Linked DNA regions of Homo sapiens. The protein of the gene in region 1 interacts with the protein of each later gene in a pairwise test. Each region holds a gene or a part of one and is shown in the gene's direction. Other genes may lie near its edges. The genes, in order: SLC39A13, MAPK8IP2, CD40, PGRMC2, OPRM1 and REL.

Region 1 (2,704 bases):
GTATTTCCAGTGGCCAACACAGTGCCCACCCAGAGCCAGCTCAGAGCAGAGTAAACCTCTGTGGAATGAGTGGGCGAGTGGGGTGCTCAGCCCTCAACACAGACCCCGCAGCCACGGCTCCCCTCCCTGCAGATCGGGCTCCTGACAACCATGGCCATCCTCCTGCATGAGATCCCCCATGAGGTGAGCGCTTGTAGGGCAGCCCCCAGGGGCCCAGGCCCCCACAGTGCCCATGATCAGCATGGGTGTGGAGCTCAGGAGGGTGTGGGGCTGGGCCTGTCCAGCATGGCACTCTGGGGCTGGGCTGTGAGGGCTGGAGCTCCTCACCCCAGCAGCCTGCAGCTGCCATCTCTGCCATACTCAGGATGGGGGTCCCAGGGGAAGGGTGGGGAAGGGCAGGGGGCTCAGTGTGTATATCGTACCTGAGCACTCAGGGCATCAGGCCCCGCTGGGGCGCAGGGTGAACCTCTGGACCTCCCTTCAGGTGGGCGACTTTGCCATCCTGCTCCGGGCCGGCTTTGACCGATGGAGCGCAGCCAAGCTGCAACTCTCAACAGCGCTGGGGGGCCTACTGGGCGCTGGCTTCGCCATCTGTACCCAGTCCCCCAAGGGAGTAGGTACGGGCGTGGCGGGTGGTTGTGGCGGGTGGCATCAGCAGAGGGGCACCAGCCAAAGGGTGTGGCTACCGCACTGCTGGTCCCCAGGCCCGGGAGGTGGGGAGCACACACAGTGCCTTGGGTACCCAGTTGGGTGTTCTCCCGCTGCAGAGGAGACGGCAGCCTGGGTCCTGCCCTTCACCTCTGGCGGCTTTCTCTACATCGCCTTGGTGAACGTGCTCCCTGACCTCTTGGAAGAAGAGGACCCGTGGTGAGTGACCTGTTGGAGGAAGAGGACTGCCACTCACAGGGCCCTTAGGGGCTCAGGAGGGAAGGGCTCCTGGCCGCTGCCTGCTCCCCCTGCCCATGCCTCCACCGTGAGCCGTTCCCTCCCCACAGGCGCTCCCTGCAGCAGCTGCTTCTGCTCTGTGCGGGCATCGTGGTAATGGTGCTGTTCTCGCTCTTCGTGGATTAACTTTCCCTGATGCCGACGCCCCTGCCCCCTGCAGCAATAAGATGCTCGGATTCACTCTGTGACCGCATATGTGAGAGGCAGAGAGGGCGAGTGGCTGCGAGAGAGAATGAGCCTCCCGCCAGACAGGAGGGAGGTGCGTGTGGATGTATGTGGTGTGCACATGTGGCCAGAGGTGTGTGCGCGAGACCGACACTGTGATCCCTGTGCTGGGTCCGGGGCCCAGTGTAGCGCCTGTCCCCAGCCATGCTGTGGTTACCTCTCCTTGCCGCCCTGTCACCTTCACCTCCCGGAGTAAGCAGCGAGGAAGAGCAGCACTGGTCCCAAGCAGAGGCCTTGCCCTGCTGGGACCCCGGGAGTGAGAGCAGCCCAAGGATCCAGGGTGCAGGGAACTCCAGAGCTGCCCACCTCCCACTGCCCCCTCAGCACACACACAGTCCCCAGGCGGCCTAGGGGCCAAGGCTGGGGCGGCTTTGGTCCCTTTTCCTGGCCCTTCCTTCCCCACTTCTAAGCCAAAGAAAGGAGAGGCAGGTGCTCCTGTACCCCAGCCCCACTCAGCACTGACAGTCCCCAGCTCCTAGTAGTGAGCTGGGAGGCGCTTCCTAAGACCCTTTCCTCAGGGCTGCCCTGGGAGCTCATTCCTGGCCAACACGCCCTGGCAGCACCAGCAGCTCTTGCCACCTCCAGCTGCCAAACAGCAGCCTGCCGGGCAGGGAGCAGCCCCAGGCCAGAGAGGCCTCCCGGTCCAGCTCAGGGATGCTCCTGCCAGCACAGGGGCCAGGGACTCCTGGAGCAGGCACATAGTGAGCCCGGGCAGCCCTGCCCAGCTCAGGCCCCTTTCCTTCCCCATTGAGGTTGGGGTAGGTGGGGGCGGTGAGGGCTCCACGTTGTCAGCGCTCAGGAATGTGCTCCGGCAGAGTGCTGAAGCCATAATCCCCAACCATTTCCCTTGGCTGACGCCCAGGTACTCAGCTGGCCCACTCCACAGCCAGGCCTGGCCCTGCCCTTCACCGTGGATGTTTTCAGAAGTGGCCATCGAGAGGTCTGGATGGTTTTATAGCAACTTTGCTGTGATTCCGTTTGTATCTGTAAATATTTGTTCTATAGATAAGATACAAATAAATATTATCCACATACTGGCTGCCTTGGTTCTGCACGGCCTTCCATGGCCAGGCAGGGCCTTCCTTACTGCCACTGCCAGGCCCTTGTCTCTGAACTGTCACCCCAGTGCATCTCTGAACGTTCCATGTCTTCCTGGCTTAACTTTTTATTCCAATGACTGAGCACCTATATGAGCCTGGCCGTATGCCATTTTAGCCCCTCACCACCACAAACTCCAGGACGCTGTCCTTATCTTTTTTTTTTTTTTGAGACAGAGTCTCACTCTGTCACCCACACTGGAGTGCAGTGGTGCGGTCTTGGCTCACTGCAACCTCCGCCTCCTGGGTTCAAGCAATTCTCCTGCCTCAACCTCCCAAGTAGCTGGGATTTACAGGTGTGTGCCACCACGCCTGGCTTTTTTTTAAAAGTAGAGATAGGGTTTTGCCATATTGGCCAGGCTGGTCTTGAACTCCTGACCTTGTGATCTGCCCGCCTCAGCCTCCCAAAGTGCTGGGCTTACAGGTGTGAGCCACCG
Region 2 (3,500 bases), on another chromosome or scaffold:
GAGGCCTGGGTGGTGCAGAGAGGGTGACCCCACCTCCCTGCCCAGCAGAGCTCCCGGGCCCCCTCCCTGCCACGGACACCGGGCCCGGCGGGGCGCAGTCGCCAGTGCGCCCGGGTTGCGACTGCGAAGGGAACCGGCCTGCGGAACCCCCTGCGCCAGGGGGGACTTCGCCCTCCTCAGATCCCGGCATCGAGGCTGACCTGAGAAGCCGCTCGAGCGGCGGCCGCGGGGGACGTCGCAGCAGCCAGGAGCTGTCCTCGCCCGGCTCCGACTCGGAGGACGCGGGCGGCGCGCGCCTGGGGCGCATGATCTCGTCCATCTCGGAGACGGAGCTGGAGCTGAGCAGCGATGGCGGAAGCAGCAGCAGCGGCCGCTCCTCGCACCTCACCAACTCCATCGAGGAGGCCTCGTCGCCCGCCTCGGAGCCGGAGCCCCCGCGCGAACCCCCGCGCCGCCCCGCCTTCCTGCCCGTGGGCCCCGACGACACCAACAGCGAGTACGAGTCGGGGTCGGAGTCGGAGCCGGACCTCAGCGAGGACGCGGACTCGCCCTGGCTGCTCAGCAACCTGGTGAGCCGCATGATCTCCGAGGGCTCCTCGCCCATCCGCTGCCCCGGCCAGTGCCTGTCTCCTGCGCCGCGCCCGCCCGGGGAGCCCGTGTCGCCGGCCGGCGGGGCCGCCCAGGACTCCCAGGACCCCGAGGCGGCCGCGGGGCCCGGCGGCGTGGAGCTGGTGGACATGGAGACGCTGTGCGCGCCGCCGCCGCCCGCGCCCGCCGCGCCTCGACCCGGCCCCGCGCAGCCCGGGCCCTGCCTATTCCTCAGCAACCCCACGCGTGACACCATCACGCCGCTGTGGGCCGCGCCCGGCCGCGCCGCCCGCCCGGGACGAGCCTGCTCCGCCGCCTGCTCCGAGGAGGAGGACGAAGAGGACGACGAGGAAGAGGAGGATGCCGAGGACAGTGCGGGGTCCCCCGGGGGCAGGGGCACGGGCCCCTCGGCGCCGCGGGACGCGTCGCTGGTGTACGACGCGGTCAAGTACACGCTGGTGGTGGATGAGCACACGCAGCTGGAGCTGGTGAGCCTGCGGCGCTGTGCTGGGCTGGGCCACGACAGCGAAGAGGACAGCGGCGGGGAGGCCAGCGAGGAGGAGGCGGGCGCGGCGCTGCTAGGCGGCGGTCAGGTCTCGGGGGACACCTCGCCGGACAGCCCTGACCTCACTTTCTCCAAGAAGTTCCTCAATGTCTTCGTCAACAGCACATCTCGGTCCTCCAGTGAGTGAGAGGTGGGGAAAAGGGGGGTGGCCCAGAGGAAGGTGCAGACTCCCTGGCCCCAGTCCCAGGGTCCCCCACAGTGCCCAGGGCCACCTGAGGGTCTGGCTGTGGTCAGGGCTGGGTGCCCTCTCCCACCCAGGACATGGCATGAGGTGGCCTGCTCTGCCTCAGCTCCTTCCCGCTCGTAGGACACCTACACCGGACTGTGGAGGGGACTTGGCCTCTGCCCAAGGCCAGGCCTCTAAGCACTACTCTGACTCTGTCTCCCTGTCTCCCCCGCCTCTGTCCTGCCGGGTCTCCCAGGCACCGAGTCCTTTGGCCTTTTCTCCTGTCTGGTCAACGGCGAGGAGCGAGAGCAGACTCACCGGGCTGTGTTCAGGTACGGCCTCCCTCCTTGCTGGCGGTGGCCCCAGCCTCAGTCCCTGCCATCACGGAACGCCAGTGGACACGACCGTCAATCCCGCCCCCCTCCCCAGTGACCTCTCCCCCAACGGCAGGTTCATCCCGCGGCATCCAGACGAGCTGGAGCTGGATGTGGATGACCCTGTGTTGGTGGAGGCCGAGGAGGACGACTTCTGGTTCCGTGGCTTCAACATGCGCACGGGGGAGCGCGGTGTGTTTCCTGCCTTCTACGCCCATGCGGTGCCCGGCCCTGCCAAGGACCTGCTGGGTGAGGTCCCAACCCCGAGGGGAGGCTTTTCACCCCAGATCCTCCCCTGTGCCCCTGCCTGACCTGGGCCCTCTGTGCCCCGCTCCCCAGGGAGTAAGCGGAGCCCCTGCTGGGTGGAGCGCTTTGACGTGCAGTTCCTGGGCTCCGTGGAGGTGCCCTGCCACCAGGGCAACGGCATCCTGTGTGCAGCCATGCAGAAGGTCAGTGTGGAGGCCGGGCAAGTGCAGGCTGAGGGTCCGCTTGGCGGCCACACCAGCACTGCAGGCTGGCACAGGGCTTGAGGCTCCAAGGTCTGAGGTCTGATTTCCTCCAGGGAGGGTCTGGGGGATGCTGCAGGGGGAGCTCGGGGTGGGTACCCCAGGCCCTGGTTCAGAGGCCTGAGCAGGTGAGTCTAGGGCAGAGCACAGCAGCTGTCCCTCATCACCTCTGGGTCTCTGGGCCACAGATCTTCCAGGTGGCCCCGACTGCCATCAGCCCTTCCTCTTCCCATCTGGAATCAAGACCAGCCCTCACAGCCCCTTCCCTGGGAGCCCTCTACTCATCCACTCACTCAGTGGACGTTTAGTGAGCACCTGCCCAGGCACCAGTACTGAGGCTGAGGCTGGGGGGCAGTAGGGAGCAGGGCAGAGCAGCCCAGGGCGGGTGAGGTCTCTGTTCCTGGCTCCTGAGCCAAGCGCAGCAGCCTGCCTGGAGGAGCAGAAGGAAGATGAAGCAAGCTGACTGCAGAGAGGCGATTGCTCCTCCTGAGCCTGAGGAGTGGCCAAGGCCACACCCCTTATGTCTTCCAGAATTGCATCTCAGGGTCCTCAGCATGTGTGTCCTCAAACATAAGCTAAAAGGAGCAGAGGCGTAGTCCCACCAAGGGGAAAGAAAGGCCCTTGTGGGCTCCTCAAGACCCTCTTCTCCCCCAACTTCTTCTGTAGATTGCCACTGCCCGGAAACTGACCGTCCACCTGCGCCCTCCTGCCTCCTGTGACCTCGAGATCTCTCTTCGGGGGGTCAAGCTGAGTCTGAGCGGAGGAGGGCCCGAGGTGGGAGTGTGGGGGACTGGGGACCGGGGACTGGGGGATAGGGTTAGGCCACGGAGTCCGACGGGGCCAGGCTGGCAGGGGTGTCCAGTAGGTGGGAGGCAGGGGTGGCGCCAGGCCTCCTTTGACACAGGGACTTCTGCCCACCTCTGCTCTAGTTCCAGCGCTGCAGCCATTTCTTCCAGATGAAGAACATCTCCTTCTGCGGCTGCCATCCCCGCAACAGCTGGTGAGAGTCTGACCGTCCCCGAGTCCCCCAACCGCCCCCACAAACCCTGAGAGTCCAACCGCCCCCTGAGTCCCCACAGACCCTGAGGGCTGCCCGTGCCCAGCCCTGAGAGCTCCACCTGCACCCACTTAGCTCTGTGAGCTGAGCCTGCAGTGGCGCCTGCTCTGAGCTGGACTCAGGAGGCGTGGGTCAGACAGGCTTGCATCCAGTCTGGGTGGAGAGAGGCACACGGGCGAAGGATGTGAGAAGCCTGTGTGGGTGCAGAGGACGCCTGAGTGGGCCTGGGGCTCAGGATGGCCAG
Region 3 (3,500 bases), on another chromosome or scaffold:
GAGGGAAGGGCTGGATGAACAGATGATGAGGAGTTGGAGGAAGAAAACATGATGGGCTTTGGAAAGGAGCAGGAAGGGAAGCAGAAGAATAGGAGGAAGAGGCCAAGTGCTAAACATAGCCCCAAACAGCACTGGGACCAGCTGAAGTCAGCCAGCTTCAGGACTCCAGGGGAGCTGCTGGAGTCCCCATATCCTATGGGATCTTTGGGAAGAGGAATGACTCAGGCATCAAGCCCCAAGGAATTCTGTTCTGTTCAGAGAATATTGTGAGTTTACAGTACCATTGCTTTGTAAAAATACCAGAATGATTCTCTGGGTGCGATTATAATCAGCTCAGTTGACAATTTACTTGAAAACAAACATGCCAAATATCATGCAGGTTCCACTTTCTGTTTTGACTTGCACTTCAGTTTGCAGCCTCTGTCCTGGATGACTTTTACCTTTCTGCTGAAGAAGTTGCAACGGAGATTTCAAGATCCCTTCAAATTGCACAATTCTGTTTTTAGGTCCATCCAGAACCACCCACTGCATGCAGAGAAAAACAGTACCTAATAAACAGTCAGTGCTGTTCTTTGTGCCAGCCAGGTGAGATGCCAACCCTCTAGCCCCATCATGGAGTCCCCCTTTGCTTTGGTGGCAGACGCAGACCCCATATGTTAACTGTAAACTCAAATCTGAAACGACCCATTTCCCAGCCCTGCTTCACTGTCAGAATGTTCTGGTTCCCTCTCTACCAGGTAAAACTCTGTCTACCCTGAACTAGGGATCCCAGCTTCTCCATCTTCCTCGCCTGATTATGAAGGATCCAAGACTTTCATCTTTGAATCCCCTACCCTAAAGCCTGGCCTGATCATTGTGTGGTTAGTGTCTGACTCATGGAGTTGGCCAGAGCCCTCCCTCATTTCCTGATGTTTTCCAGGACAGAAACTGGTGAGTGACTGCACAGAGTTCACTGAAACGGAATGCCTTCCTTGCGGTGAAAGCGAATTCCTAGACACCTGGAACAGAGAGACACACTGCCACCAGCACAAATACTGCGACCCCAGTGCGTGCGCTGTTGGGAAAGGGACGCTTGGGAACCGGGCTGATATTCCCGACAATGCAGCCATTCTAATTTTATGTAGCCAGGGTCTGCTCTGATTGGTTGGAGTCCGGGCTGTACTGATCATTAAATGATTTGATTGCCATCTCTACTTGGAAGAGGGTCTGAGGAAGAAAGAGCAGGCAATGTGGGGAGTGAGGCTCAGAGCATGGCCCAGCAGGGGGTTCCCATCCTTCCTGCCCTTCTCTTCTCAGACCTAGGGCTTCGGGTCCAGCAGAAGGGCACCTCAGAAACAGACACCATCTGCACCTGTGAAGAAGGCTGGCACTGTACGAGTGAGGCCTGTGAGAGCTGTGTCCTGCACCGCTCATGCTCGCCCGGCTTTGGGGTCAAGCAGATTGGTAAGTGGCTCATCTGGGAATCAGTTTTGGAGGGGGACAGAGGAGCTTAGGGCCCAAGGTGAGGGGCTGGGCAGTGGGCACTTAGCCCCAGAGGCAGAGGAAGCAGAGGCTCCAACCTATGTCGGTATCCCCACTGGAGTGAGCTGCAGACGGGACCTTGTTCATTCTGCCTTCTGCCATGGGGATCTGCCTTTGAAGGGCAATGGGAGAAGTCCTCCTGGGGACTGCAGCTGTCGGGGGCAGTACCACATCGGGGGAAGAGTGCTCAAGGCAGGAGCTCTTCCCGTCCTGCCTGGCCACTGGCTGCCTTGTGAGCCGGACAGGTGGTCCACTGTGATGGTTAATGTCCCCCTCCCCACCCACTCCCAGCTACAGGGGTTTCTGATACCATCTGCGAGCCCTGCCCAGTCGGCTTCTTCTCCAATGTGTCATCTGCTTTCGAAAAATGTCACCCTTGGACAAGGTATAAGCACTCATCCCTTGTGTTTCCTGCTCTAAGAGTGGCATGGAGCTGCCTCCATTCTCTCCAGCCACCTGTCCTGTCCCTGCTCCCAGAGGTCCACACACACTCATGTACTTGTGAAGCATCTGCAGAGTGGCCTCATGGCCAACCAGACAGGCACATTTCCACATTTTTTTTGCCTGCTGTCTCTTTGAGGTAATAGACACTGTTGATCTCTCGCTTCATGAGAGCCTCCTATCTTGGGGGTATTGGGACACTTATTTTAGCTTTCCTTCTGCCCCTCCTGCTTCTCCTCAGTTTTCCTCGTCTTGCTTTCACCTTACCTGGCTTTCTAGGGCTTTCTGGGCTCTGGGTGCTCACCCTGAGGGCCTCCCTCTCTTACCTCCAACTCCAAACCCACACCAGGTCCTGCCACTGGCTGTCTACGTGTTTTGGGAACTTACTGTCTCCACTGTTGTCACTTTAGTTTGGGCCTCATCACTGTGGTCTGGGTGATGCCTTTTCTGCCTCCTGGCCTCCCTGCCTCTGTCTCTCCCCTCCTGCTGGTTCTGTCTCCATCCTCTTGCCAACATGAGCGTTCGACAGTTTCTTTCAAATCATGACACTCTCCTATTTGAGATGCTTCCTGTCTCTCTGTTGGAACTAAGACTCCTTAGCATGGCACCCAACCTTCCTGTTGCATTTCCTGCTCTCTTTCCTGCATCGCATAGCTTCATGCTACTTGCAATCCTCTGAACACACTGTTCATTCTCTTCCATCAAACTCATCTGCCTGGAATACCTTAAACATGGGCCCCAGGCCAGGCGCGGTGGCTCTTGCCTGTAATCTCAGCACTTTGGATGCCAAGGCGGGTGGATCACTTGAGGTCAGGAGTTCAAGACCAGCCAGCACAACATGGTAAAAACCCATCTCTACTAAAAATACCAAAAAATTAGCTGGGTGTGGTGGTGGGCGCCTGTAATCCCAGCTCCTCGGGAGGCTGAGGCAGGAGAATCACTTGAACCCGGAAGGTGGAGTTTGCAGTGAGCCAAGATAGCGCCACTGCACTCCAGCCTGGGCAACAGAGCGACATTCTGTCTCAAAAAACAAACACCTGCCCCATTAACTTTTTGCATTTGATTTTTAAAAATGGGCAAGATAGGCACATGGGACAGAAGGCACAAAAGAGCCAAAGTGATGTCTTTCTCCCATCCCTGCCCCTTAGGCTCCCAGTTCTTTCTGGAGGGAGCCATTGTTCCTTGCATATCCTTCCAGAGATTCTACATATAAACAAACCAACACACACACACACACACACAAACACACACAAAATTTCCCTCCTTTTACTTTTGCACAAATAGGAGTATACATTTTATTTGTTAACTGTCTGCCTTTCCCTAATAGATTGAAAATTCCTTAAATGTAGAAACTTGGCCTTTTTTTTTTCTTCCATTGATACATCCCCTATACCTGGAACAGTACCTGACGCATGGTAGGTGCTTAAATTTTTACTGATAAATGTTGACTGATAACTGGAGGCACCACTGGTATAGTTTTTTTTTTTTTTTTTTTTTTTTTTTTTTTTTGAGACAGAGTCTCACTCTGTCGCCCAGGC
Region 4 (3,500 bases), on another chromosome or scaffold:
GAGGTATTATTTCAGTTTTACCATACTGCATTCTCTCTAAAAGTCTTGGGACTTACTGGACCTAAGCATAAAAAAATTTATTAGTTCAGTTAATCACTTTTACATATTGCCTCATTTGTTGATAGGCTGATTATAATCTTATTTGAAATAAATTACCCAATACTAAGTGTTATTAGTTACTCAATTTATAATCACAAAAGATTATTGTCAAAACAGGCCTGAAAACTGCACTGTTGATAAACTTTAATTAATTAAAGTTCATCTCTGAGAGATATGGTTTTTAAACTGTGAGAATAATTAAAATATCCCTTTAGAAACACTAAGGTAGCTATATAATCATCCTAATAATCACAAAATTATCTGTTACTACATATTTACTTCCTCCTGGAATTTTCTGTTTATTAAATTAATATTTAAAACATTTTACAATGAGCATATGTTGTTGCTGTTTCAAGAATATGTCACCTCATTCTAACTGATTGTATTAAAGTAAGCAGTTTTAGGATACGGTAACAAATAGGTTTATTGAACTTTAAAATATCTTGACCACAAGTTGGATTGACACTGAAAACTAAATGAAATCTGAATTCTGACTAGTATAGTACTTCATGTTGGGTTTGTTTTGTTTGTTTGTTTGTTTGTTTGTTTGTTTGTTTTGAGATGGAGTCTCGCTCTGTCGCCTAGGCTGGTGTGCAGTGGCGAGATCTCAGCTCACTGCAAGCTCTGCCTCCCAGGTTCACGCCATTCTCCTGCCTCAGCCTCCCAAGTAGCTGGGACTACAGGTGCCCACTACCATGCCCGACTAATTTTTTGTATTTTTTAGTAGATACTGGGTTTCACCACGTTGGCCAGGATGGTCACGATCTCCTGACCTCGTGATCCGCCTGCCTCTTGTTGGTATATTTAACAATAGCTTTGAAATAAAATTTATCTTTAAAATGATGTCCTTGAATATTTGTTATGTAAGTATATTTCAGAGTATTTGCTTTGACTGAATAATGCTGTTCATTTTTTGTAGCACGAATTTGCTTAAAATTGGGAGGCTGTTTTTGGATCAGCATTATATTTTAATATTTGATAAAGCAACAGAATTTAATTCTTCTAGTTACTACTGAACTGTTAGTGTCTAAATGAGCCTTAATAATAAAAAATAACCAGATCATGTAAACTAGCCTTTTTAAAAATAAATTAGGCTGGGCACAGTGGCTCATGCCTGTAATCCCAGCACTGTGGGAGGTTGAGGTAGGCGGATCACCTGAGGTCAGGAGTTCAAGACCAGCCTGTCCACCATATATGGTGAAACCCCCTCTCTACCAAAAATATAAAAATTAGCTGGGCGTGGTGCCACACCCAATAATCCCAGCTACTTGGGAGGCTGAGTGAGGCAGGAGAATCACTTAAACCTAGGAGGCAGAGGTTGCAGTGAGTTGAGATCACACCACAGAGTGTGACTCTGTCTCAAAAAAAAATACTAATACAAATAAATAAATTATACCATGCAACAGACTTAAACCATTTCAAATTGGCTTTATTTGGGGAGCTCCCTATTGTTTTAGTATTATGAATAGCCAAGTATACTTACCAAATATTAGAATTGGTAAATATTTAGGTTTTTTATGTAAGGGGATAACGGAATGGGAAGGTATTGCTGACTTTTCAGATAAGCTCCTGGTTGTATTATGAATGCAGGGAAATCTCCTTTTATTAGACATCAAATCCTTCCTCAGAATAACCCATCCAGTTCCAACTTTAGTTCCTAATGTTATATTCTTTAATGGCCTTACAGAAGGCTGGGCATGGTGGCTTAGGCCTGTAATTCTAACACTTTGGGAGGCAAAGGCAGGAGGATTGCTTGAGGCCAGGAGTTCAAGATCAGCTGGGCAACATAGGGAGACCTTGTCTCTACAAAAAATAAAAGAAATTATGCAGGCCTGGTGGGCCATGCTTCTAGTCCCAGCTATTTGGGAGGTTAGGGCAGGAGGATTACTTGAGCCCAGGAAGTAGAGGCCACAGTGAAATATGATTGAGCCGCTGTACTCCAGCCTGGGTGACAGAGTAAGACCCTGTCTCAAAAAACAACAAAAAAAATTTTTTTAATGGTCTTACAGGAAAGAGCATAGAAAATTATTACTAAAAAGACCTTTGCAGAAGTTAAATGCTTCCTGAGGGAAATTCTAAACATATGGAGAAGACAGCTTAATATAGTTTAGGGAGTGGGGGAATATGTTAATCACTGAATTATTCTTTTCTATTCAAGAGTCAACAGAACATCATTTGTCTGGAATTTGGCTTGGATTATTAACTGTTGACTCAAGTTCACTCTTACCAAGTCAATCATTCCCTACCCCCAGTACCCCAGAAAGAGCATATTTTATGAAATTTTTTATTATTATTATTCATTCAGTGTTGAAGCTTTCTTAGGGAAGTTGGTAGAGAAATTAATAGAGAATGCACTGGTATATATTAATATACTCAAAGATGGAGGGCTTTCTGATTGCTGTTTTTATAATGATTTTATCTTCTCTCCTTTGTATCATTTAAATGTGTTTTATGGCTTATACTCTGAAGTGCCTGAAGTAGATTAATGTTTGCAGGCCATGGAGATAAATACTATAATAGAATGCTTAGAAAAGCTATTAAGTAGAGCTTTTTTGTTAATTCTCTTCCATTTTGATTTAATAAGTATTCTAAAATTTTCATTCCCTTGAAATTTTGTAAGTAGTAAAATGCTCCAGTTTTCATGGTCGTTACTCCATCTTTGGGCTTGTGAGTCTTCTATGTGTTTTCTTGAGGTACACTGGAGGATTTAGGAAAGTGGAAATAGTACTCTCAGTTCTGTCAGTAATTTTAGGCAAATCACACTGAATGCCTCCGCTCCTGTTTTTTATCTGCCAAATGGGGAAGGCAGTCTGTCCCTTCCACTTTGGGAAACTCTGAGAGAGAAAAGTGAGGTTGCTGGAAAATTCTTTTAAAAATTGAACCTATAATTTTCCATTTGTAGATTGTTATGGCCTTTATTAGTTTTATTTTTCCTTTTGTATGTTTCACTTTTTGCTTTTTTAAGTTTATAAGCATTGGTCTAGTCAGCATTAAGGGTAAATATAATGTTTATAGATTTTTTTTATCATTGTTTCTTAGAAATTTTTATTTTTAAACACACTAGTTCTCTGTCTCTGTCTCTCTCCTTGTCCTCCTGAAAACACCCATTGCCACAAAGTGTGTAGAATTTTGCACGCACATGTGCATGTACACACACAGACATAACTGGTTAATACCTTTTTTTTTTTTTTTTTTTTTTCTTTGGAGAAGGAGTCTTGCTTTCTCGGCCAGGCCGTAGTGCAGTGGCATGATCTCAACTCACTGCAACCTCCGTCTCCTGGATTCAAGCAATTCTCCTGCCTCAGACTCCTGAGTAGCTGGGATTACAGGCGTGCGCCACCACAGCCGGCTAATTTTTGTAGTTTTAGTAGAGATGAGGTTTCACCATGTTGGCCAGGCTG
Region 5 (3,500 bases), on another chromosome or scaffold:
CAACATTTTATAGCAAAGTGAGAAGTCCTCCATTCTCCCCTTCACTAAGCTAGTGGAGAATATAATACAAAATAGCAACCTAATATATAGTCTTTCTCCATGTTAATGCCAATGAGAGGATAATCACTAGTTTTGATTATGCTTTTTCTTATTTTAGAACCTCCCCCCCCAACAGACAGACAGACACACACACACACACTCACAAGTAAAAACGCACCTGGGATATCAGAATGGAATAGATGGATAATAATGGATCAATTAACTCAGGTAGATACTCATTTGACCATATTCTTTGCCTAAATAATTACTTGAAATGTAGGAAAGTATCTTTATCTCATTGGATTGATCCAATTAAATATGAGTATTAAAGTATGACACTCTAGGGAGGATTTTTTTCTCGACTAAAAAGGTTAATTTCTATGTGAGGGTAAGTGGACATAAAAGTCATGGCAAATGCAAGAAATATATCTTTCCAAGCACATTGCTGAACATATAAAAGGGGCTTGTTGAATTCTTACTGAATTAGGTATCTTTCTTCACACTACTTGGTAAAAAAAATGAAAAGGCAGAAAAATTAGCCCCAAAAGAGATGAAACTCTTCCGTCCATCACCATTGACTCTATTGTGAACTTATGAAAAAGGTAGTTGAGCAATATGAAGGCCATGATGTGGAATTAAACACACACACACACACACACACACACACACACACATGCTGGATTCTAAAATGTGTCCTTCCTCCTCTCACTCTCTTGATCAGTTTTATTTCTGAACTGAGACACGATCACCACAATTCAAATAATTAACCACAAAACTAAACAGAAGTTTACAAAACCCATCAGGTGTACAGAGGTAATTTATTTAGTCTGGCTTCACTTAACACAAATAGGTCAAAAGCAATCACATTTTGTAAGTAGTAATAGTTGGAGAAATGTGTGAAGAATAGGTCAAAAGATAAATAAGAATTATTTTATAACCATAAGAAAGGAAGAACATCTATAAACAAAAGTCATATATGCAACATAAAAGAATAGGTGAGCTGCCAGCAAATGGGCCTCACAATGCCTTTTCCCCAACACTTCTGGAAGTTCCATAAAAATCACTCTAATGGGTCAAACATCGATGGTTCTCAGAAGAACACAATTTTTTTCAAAAACGAATAGCATTGTAAATTCATTTGAATTCATAAAACAAAAGAGCTATTTAATCATCTAGACCAAAGTTAAAGAAATACCTACTACAAAAATTTTAATGGGATAATTAGAAAGAAATAGCTTGGGCCACTGCTTCGAGCAGAAGATGGAGTTCAGTGGCTACCATAGGAAGGGTCAATATCAGGATGGCCTGTGAGTCCAGATGAGTCTCTCTTTGCCCATTTTGCCACAGAACACATTCACAGCACAGTACAAAGCAGTAGGCATGGAGTAAGGAAAAAGGCTTGTGTTTTAATAGCCAGGAGTTCTACTCGGACCCACTCAGGTAAACTGAATGGCAAAGATAATTCTTCCTGCAGGTCATTTCTTTTGCTAGTTTGCTAACTCTGAGTCCTATGCTCCTGTGCAAGGCCCATGATGTGACTCTGAGCATTCATTGAACTTTGCTGGGACAACATTCATGCCACCACATCAGAACAGAATGAAAGCTTGCCCTTTTTTTTTTTTTTTTTGAGACAGTGTCTCTCTCTGTTGCTCAGGCTGGAATGCAGTGGTACGATTCTCCTGCCTCAGCCTCCCAAGTAGCTGGGATTGCAGGTGCCTGCCACCACCCCCAGCTAATTTTTCTAATTTTAGTAGAGACAGGGTTGACCAGGCTGGTCTCCTTCCCCTGCCCTCAAGTGATCCATTCACCTCAGCCTCCCAAAGTGCTGGGATTATAGGCTTGAGCCACCAGGCCCAGCCCACATTACTCCTTTTCTGATTAGACCATCTCTTCAGATTAAAGCCTTTGGGTATATGCTGGAGGCAATTGGAATTCTTAATCCTTTAGCTTTGTATAATTTTCTTTCACATATTTAGAAGATCGTTGAGCCCCCTTTTATATGTTGCTGTGATCCAAAGCATGAGTAACTGGGGTAAGAATGCTGGCTATCTTTAGAGGAAGACTTTTTAAATAAATTGAGAAAAATTAAACAGCATCATTCCTATAAAATGCCCGTTGAAAGAATTTTTATAGATAAATATTCACTTTTTTTTGGTAAATTGATGATAAAATTATGTATATTTACCATATACAACATGATGTTTTGAAATGTATACACATTGTGGAATGGCTAGCATGCTAATTAACTATGCATAACCACGTTTCCTTTCACCATGTTGAACCCTGACATAATTTTTTTTTCCACAAACACCTCACTCTGGAGAAGGAAATGATTTTTTTTAATTAAAATAAACATACATTGGAAATACTTAGTGCTAAAATAAGCCTGAAGGAAAGGTTGGAAGTATGATGAGTCAGAAAACTGACTGTAAAGAAACCAATTACTTAACATAAAACACCATTAAAGATAAGCCACGAAATGTAAGGTCTGCTGGGTAGGAAAGTGGCAAATGCAATGAAGCATGTCTTTAGATCATGCAGGTCTATAACCAACGGTGAATCTAGCAAAAGTTATTTTCTCTTTTGGGGAGAAACTTCTTCTTATTAAAAAAATAAAAAATGTTTCAACTTCTTGAGCACCAAGGTCAATTATTCTAAATCTTAAAACCACAGTTTTAATTTTGCTTTTTTGTTGGTTTTTGTACTTTGGAGTATTTGTCTACATTATCCTTTTTATATTTGCCATATTTAAAGTCCAAACTAAAAGCAAATTATTTTCTCTCCTCAAGTTAAATGGCTCTATCTTTTTCTTTAAAATCCATTAAGAAAGTGAAACTCCCAAAGTAAGTCCAAAAAAAAGCCCCCAAGTCTGAAAATGTGGAGCTTTTCTGGCAGTAATGCAGCTTCTGCAAGTATTGCAGACCAGATCAGGTATCAGAATTTTAAAGCTTCAGTAACAAAGCTGTCCTATTGACCCTGAGGAGATTTATGAAATCACTTTCCTGATGTTATTGAAACCAAAACACTTTCCTGGACACTGAATTCAGTCCTAAACAAAGGGCCTCCAACCAACAGCTGTCTTGGGCTGAATGAGTTAGACTCAACCTCGTGTGACGGAAAAACAGTAAACACAAGCTAACATTTAAAAGGAATTGATGGCACCGTGTAAATCAGAAGCCCAAGGAGGGCCTGGCTTCAGGTGTGGGGTTCTCTCTCACGCTCTCAAATCCACATCCTCCGGATTAGGTCCATTTTCAGACAAGCTCCTCCAGCAACTACATACCATGCGTCTTCTCAGGTGTGGGTCCTGCAGGAAAACTAATACACTCTTTGTCCATAAGTCTCAAAATAAACTCTCACTGGCTCTGGTTGGAACATGAGAGCATCCTTGCCATTCACCATGGCCCCGGTCACTAAACGTCTTCACGCCCTGGACTGGTAATACAGCCTATCCCAAAGCA
Region 6 (2,769 bases), on another chromosome or scaffold:
TGCTATTTCCCCCTACCCGCCCTCCGATGATCTTATCAGAGCCCACAGGTTCAGTTTTCTTTCATGCTACCTGAATGTCCTGATAAACTGGCTCGCTCTCTTCTTTACCTTCCATAATGGCATTACCATTTACCACGCCACCCAAGATACTTACTAGGAACCTCAAAGTATTGTATTCTTTTTCTCCATCACACTCATACTTAATCATCAAGTCCTTTTGAGCTTGTCTCCTCTTGAATATGTCCCTTCTTAATTCCTGCTGCCTTCTTAGTAAAGGCCTTCATTCTTTTTTCCCTAGTAATAATCTTTTCCATATGTTCCAGTTAAAATACCATGTTCTCCCTATTCCTTATTACATAGCTAGCATTCCTTGAAAAAAAACAATTCTCTCAGGCCTCCATACCTTTAGCATGTTACCCACTCTGCCTCTGCTCTTCTGGAACTAGAACACTCATCCTTGAAGGCTGGGCTTCTGTATGAAGGTTGGTCCTGCCTCCTTACTTGAGGTGAAGCTTTGTACATGCCTGTATTACGGACATCCTCTTATTTAAGTGTTTGTCTCTTTCGTCATTGGGACTCCAGCACCCAGCATAGTCCCTAGTATACTAGTTGGTGCTGAATAAATAGTAGCTATTATTAGAAAAGGAAGGGTGAAATTGACATGGGAGTTAGTAAAATGTATATGGAAATGATTTTTAAAGGGAAAGGTAATGATTTTCTGGCAGGAAAAGCAGCAATGACAAGATTACTTAAGTCTTGTGAAATAACACTTCTCTTCCTTGACCTGCTGCTTCCCTTTTTTACCACACACACACGCACACATACCACAGCCCTTTGAGACTGAAAGCAGCTCTATTGAGAATAGTAGTGTCAACTGTATTATGTAGAAATTCTAAAGTTTTTGGGATTATTTCATAGCCCTGACCTTGCTACTTCTCTCCACTTTATGTGGCAGGTTTAATCTCAGGTCTCCCTCATACACTTCTCAGCCTCAGCACCTAACCCTCACACAACACTCCAGTATTGATGCAGTCAATCTTGTATAACATTTTTTGAATGTCCAATGTGCAAAGCACGATGTTGGAAATTATACAGAGGTGAATAAGACAAAAACTCTTGCTCTCAAAGATGTCAGTCTTTTTCTTTGCAAGGATAACACATGTAGAGTAAAATGCATAAAGGGGACTAATTTTAAATGTACAGCTTAATTAATTTTTATGTATGTTAACACCCATGTCACCACCATGTTTAGGACATTTCCAGCACCCCTGAAATTTCCTTCATGCCCCTTCCCAGTCTGTACCTACACCTCTAAATCTATTTTCAATCTTAATGGCCTTTTAAATAACTGGGCTTCTCACAACCATAGTGAACAGAAACAGCTGGGTTGTCAACGTCTAACCTAATACTTCAGGAAAACTCATGATGGTTTCCATGTTAAGAGAGACATGGAGCAGGGCACTGGCATGGTGGATGGATCACGCCTGTAATCCCAGCACTTTGGGAGGCCGAGGTAGGGGGATTGCTTGAGCCCAGGAGTTCAAGACTAGCCTGGGTAATATAAGGAAAACCTGTCTCTGCAAAAAAAAAAAAAAAAAGAGGATACAACCAAATGGAAGAACATTCCATGCTCATGGGTAGGAAGAATCAATATCGTGAAAATGGCCATACTGCCCAAGGTAATTTACAGATTCAGTGCCATCCCCATCAAGCTACCAATGCCTTTCTTCACAGAATTGGAAAAAACTACTTTAAAGTTCATATGGAACCAAAAAAGAGCCCATATCGCCAAGTCAATCCTAAGCCAAAAGAACAAAGCTGGAGGCATCACACTACCTGACTTCAAACTATACTACAAGGCTACAGTAACCAAAACAGCATGGTACTGGTACCAAAACAGAGATATAGATCACTGGAACAGAACAGAGCCCTCAGAAATAACGCCGCATATCTACAACTATCTGATCTTTGACAAACCTGAGAAAAACAAGCAATGGGGAAAGGATTCCCTATTTAATAAATGGTGCTGGGAAAACTGGCTAGCCATATGTAGAAAGCTGAAACTGGATCCCTTCCTTACACCTTATACAAAAATCAATTCAAGATGGATTAAAGACTTAAACGTTAGACCTAAAACCATAAAAACCCTAGAAGAAAACCTAGGCATTACCATTCAGGACATAGGCATGGGCAAGGACTTCATGTCTAAAACACCAAAAGCAATGGCAACAAAAGCCAAAATTGACAAATGGGATCTAATTAAACTAAAGAGCTGCTGCACAGCAAAAGAAACTACCATCAGAGTGAACAGGCAACCTACAAAATGGGAGAAAATTTTCGCAACCTACTTATCTGACAAAGGGCTAATATCCAGAATCTACAATGAACTCAAACAAATTTACAAGAAAAAAACAACCCCATCAAAAAGTGGGCGAAGGACATGAACAGACACTTCTCAAAAGAAGACATTTATGCAGCCAAAAAACACATGAAAAAATGCTCATCATGACTGGCCATCAGAGAAATGCAAATCAAAACCACAATGAGATACCATCTCACACCAGTTAGAATGGCAATCATTAAAAAGTCAGGAGACAACAGGTGCTGGAGAGGATGTGGAGAAATAGGAACACTTTTACACTGTTGGTGGGACTGTAAACTAGTTCAACCATTGTGGAAGTCAGTGTGGCGATTCCTCAGGGATGTAGAACTGGAAATACCGTTTGACCCAGCCATCCCATTACTGGGTATATACCCAAAGGACTATAA

The links.
Region 2: the proteins of SLC39A13 (region 1) and MAPK8IP2 interact in a two-hybrid assay, tested with the Homo sapiens proteins (one large-scale study listed by BioGRID and IntAct).
Region 3: the proteins of SLC39A13 (region 1) and CD40 interact in binary tests that used the Homo sapiens proteins (3 or more experiments, as listed by UniProt).
Region 4: the proteins of SLC39A13 (region 1) and PGRMC2 interact in binary tests that used the Homo sapiens proteins (3 or more experiments, as listed by UniProt).
Region 5: the proteins of SLC39A13 (region 1) and OPRM1 interact in a two-hybrid assay, tested with the Homo sapiens proteins (one large-scale study listed by BioGRID and IntAct).
Region 6: the proteins of SLC39A13 (region 1) and REL interact in binary tests that used the Homo sapiens proteins (3 or more experiments, as listed by UniProt).

The regions. Positions count from the first base shown.
Region 1 is NC_000011.10:47,414,293-47,416,996, forward strand, and holds the end of SLC39A13 (zinc transporter ZIP13 isoform a precursor), read left to right. Parts: coding exon of another isoform or gene 1-132; coding exon 133-183; intron 184-484; coding exon 485-617; intron 618-746; coding exon 747-867; intron 868-995; coding exon 996-1,071; 3' UTR 1,072-2,204; downstream 2,205-2,704. UniProt on the Homo sapiens protein: Functions as a zinc transporter transporting Zn(2+) from the Golgi apparatus to the cytosol and thus influences the zinc level at least in areas of the cytosol. May regulate beige adipocyte differentiation.
Region 2 is NC_000022.11:50,603,793-50,607,292, forward strand, and holds part of MAPK8IP2 (C-Jun-amino-terminal kinase-interacting protein 2), read left to right. Parts: intron 1-45; coding exon of another isoform or gene 46-48; coding exon 49-1,272; intron 1,273-1,575; coding exon 1,576-1,651; intron 1,652-1,769; coding exon 1,770-1,942; intron 1,943-2,032; coding exon 2,033-2,142; intron 2,143-2,865; coding exon 2,866-2,973; intron 2,974-3,128; coding exon 3,129-3,199; intron 3,200-3,500. UniProt on the Homo sapiens protein: The JNK-interacting protein (JIP) group of scaffold proteins selectively mediates JNK signaling by aggregating specific components of the MAPK cascade to form a functional JNK signaling module.
Region 3 is NC_000020.11:46,121,314-46,124,813, forward strand, and holds part of CD40 (tumor necrosis factor receptor superfamily member 5 isoform 1 precursor), read left to right. Parts: intron 1-506; coding exon 507-585; intron 586-919; coding exon 920-1,045; intron 1,046-1,296; coding exon 1,297-1,443; intron 1,444-1,812; coding exon 1,813-1,906; intron 1,907-3,500.
Region 4 is NC_000004.12:128,274,314-128,277,813, reverse strand, and holds part of PGRMC2 (membrane-associated progesterone receptor component 2), read left to right. Parts: intron 1-3,500. UniProt on the Homo sapiens protein: Required for the maintenance of uterine histoarchitecture and normal female reproductive lifespan. May serve as a universal non-classical progesterone receptor in the uterus.
Region 5 is NC_000006.12:154,084,240-154,087,739, forward strand, and holds part of OPRM1 (mu-type opioid receptor), read left to right. Parts: intron 1-2,267; exon of another isoform or gene 2,268-3,500. UniProt on the Homo sapiens protein: Receptor for endogenous opioids such as beta-endorphin and endomorphin. Receptor for natural and synthetic opioids including morphine, heroin, DAMGO, fentanyl, etorphine, buprenorphin and methadone.
Region 6 is NC_000002.12:60,926,574-60,929,342, forward strand, and holds part of REL (proto-oncogene c-Rel), read left to right. Parts: 3' UTR 1-2,769. UniProt on the Homo sapiens protein: Proto-oncogene that may play a role in differentiation and lymphopoiesis.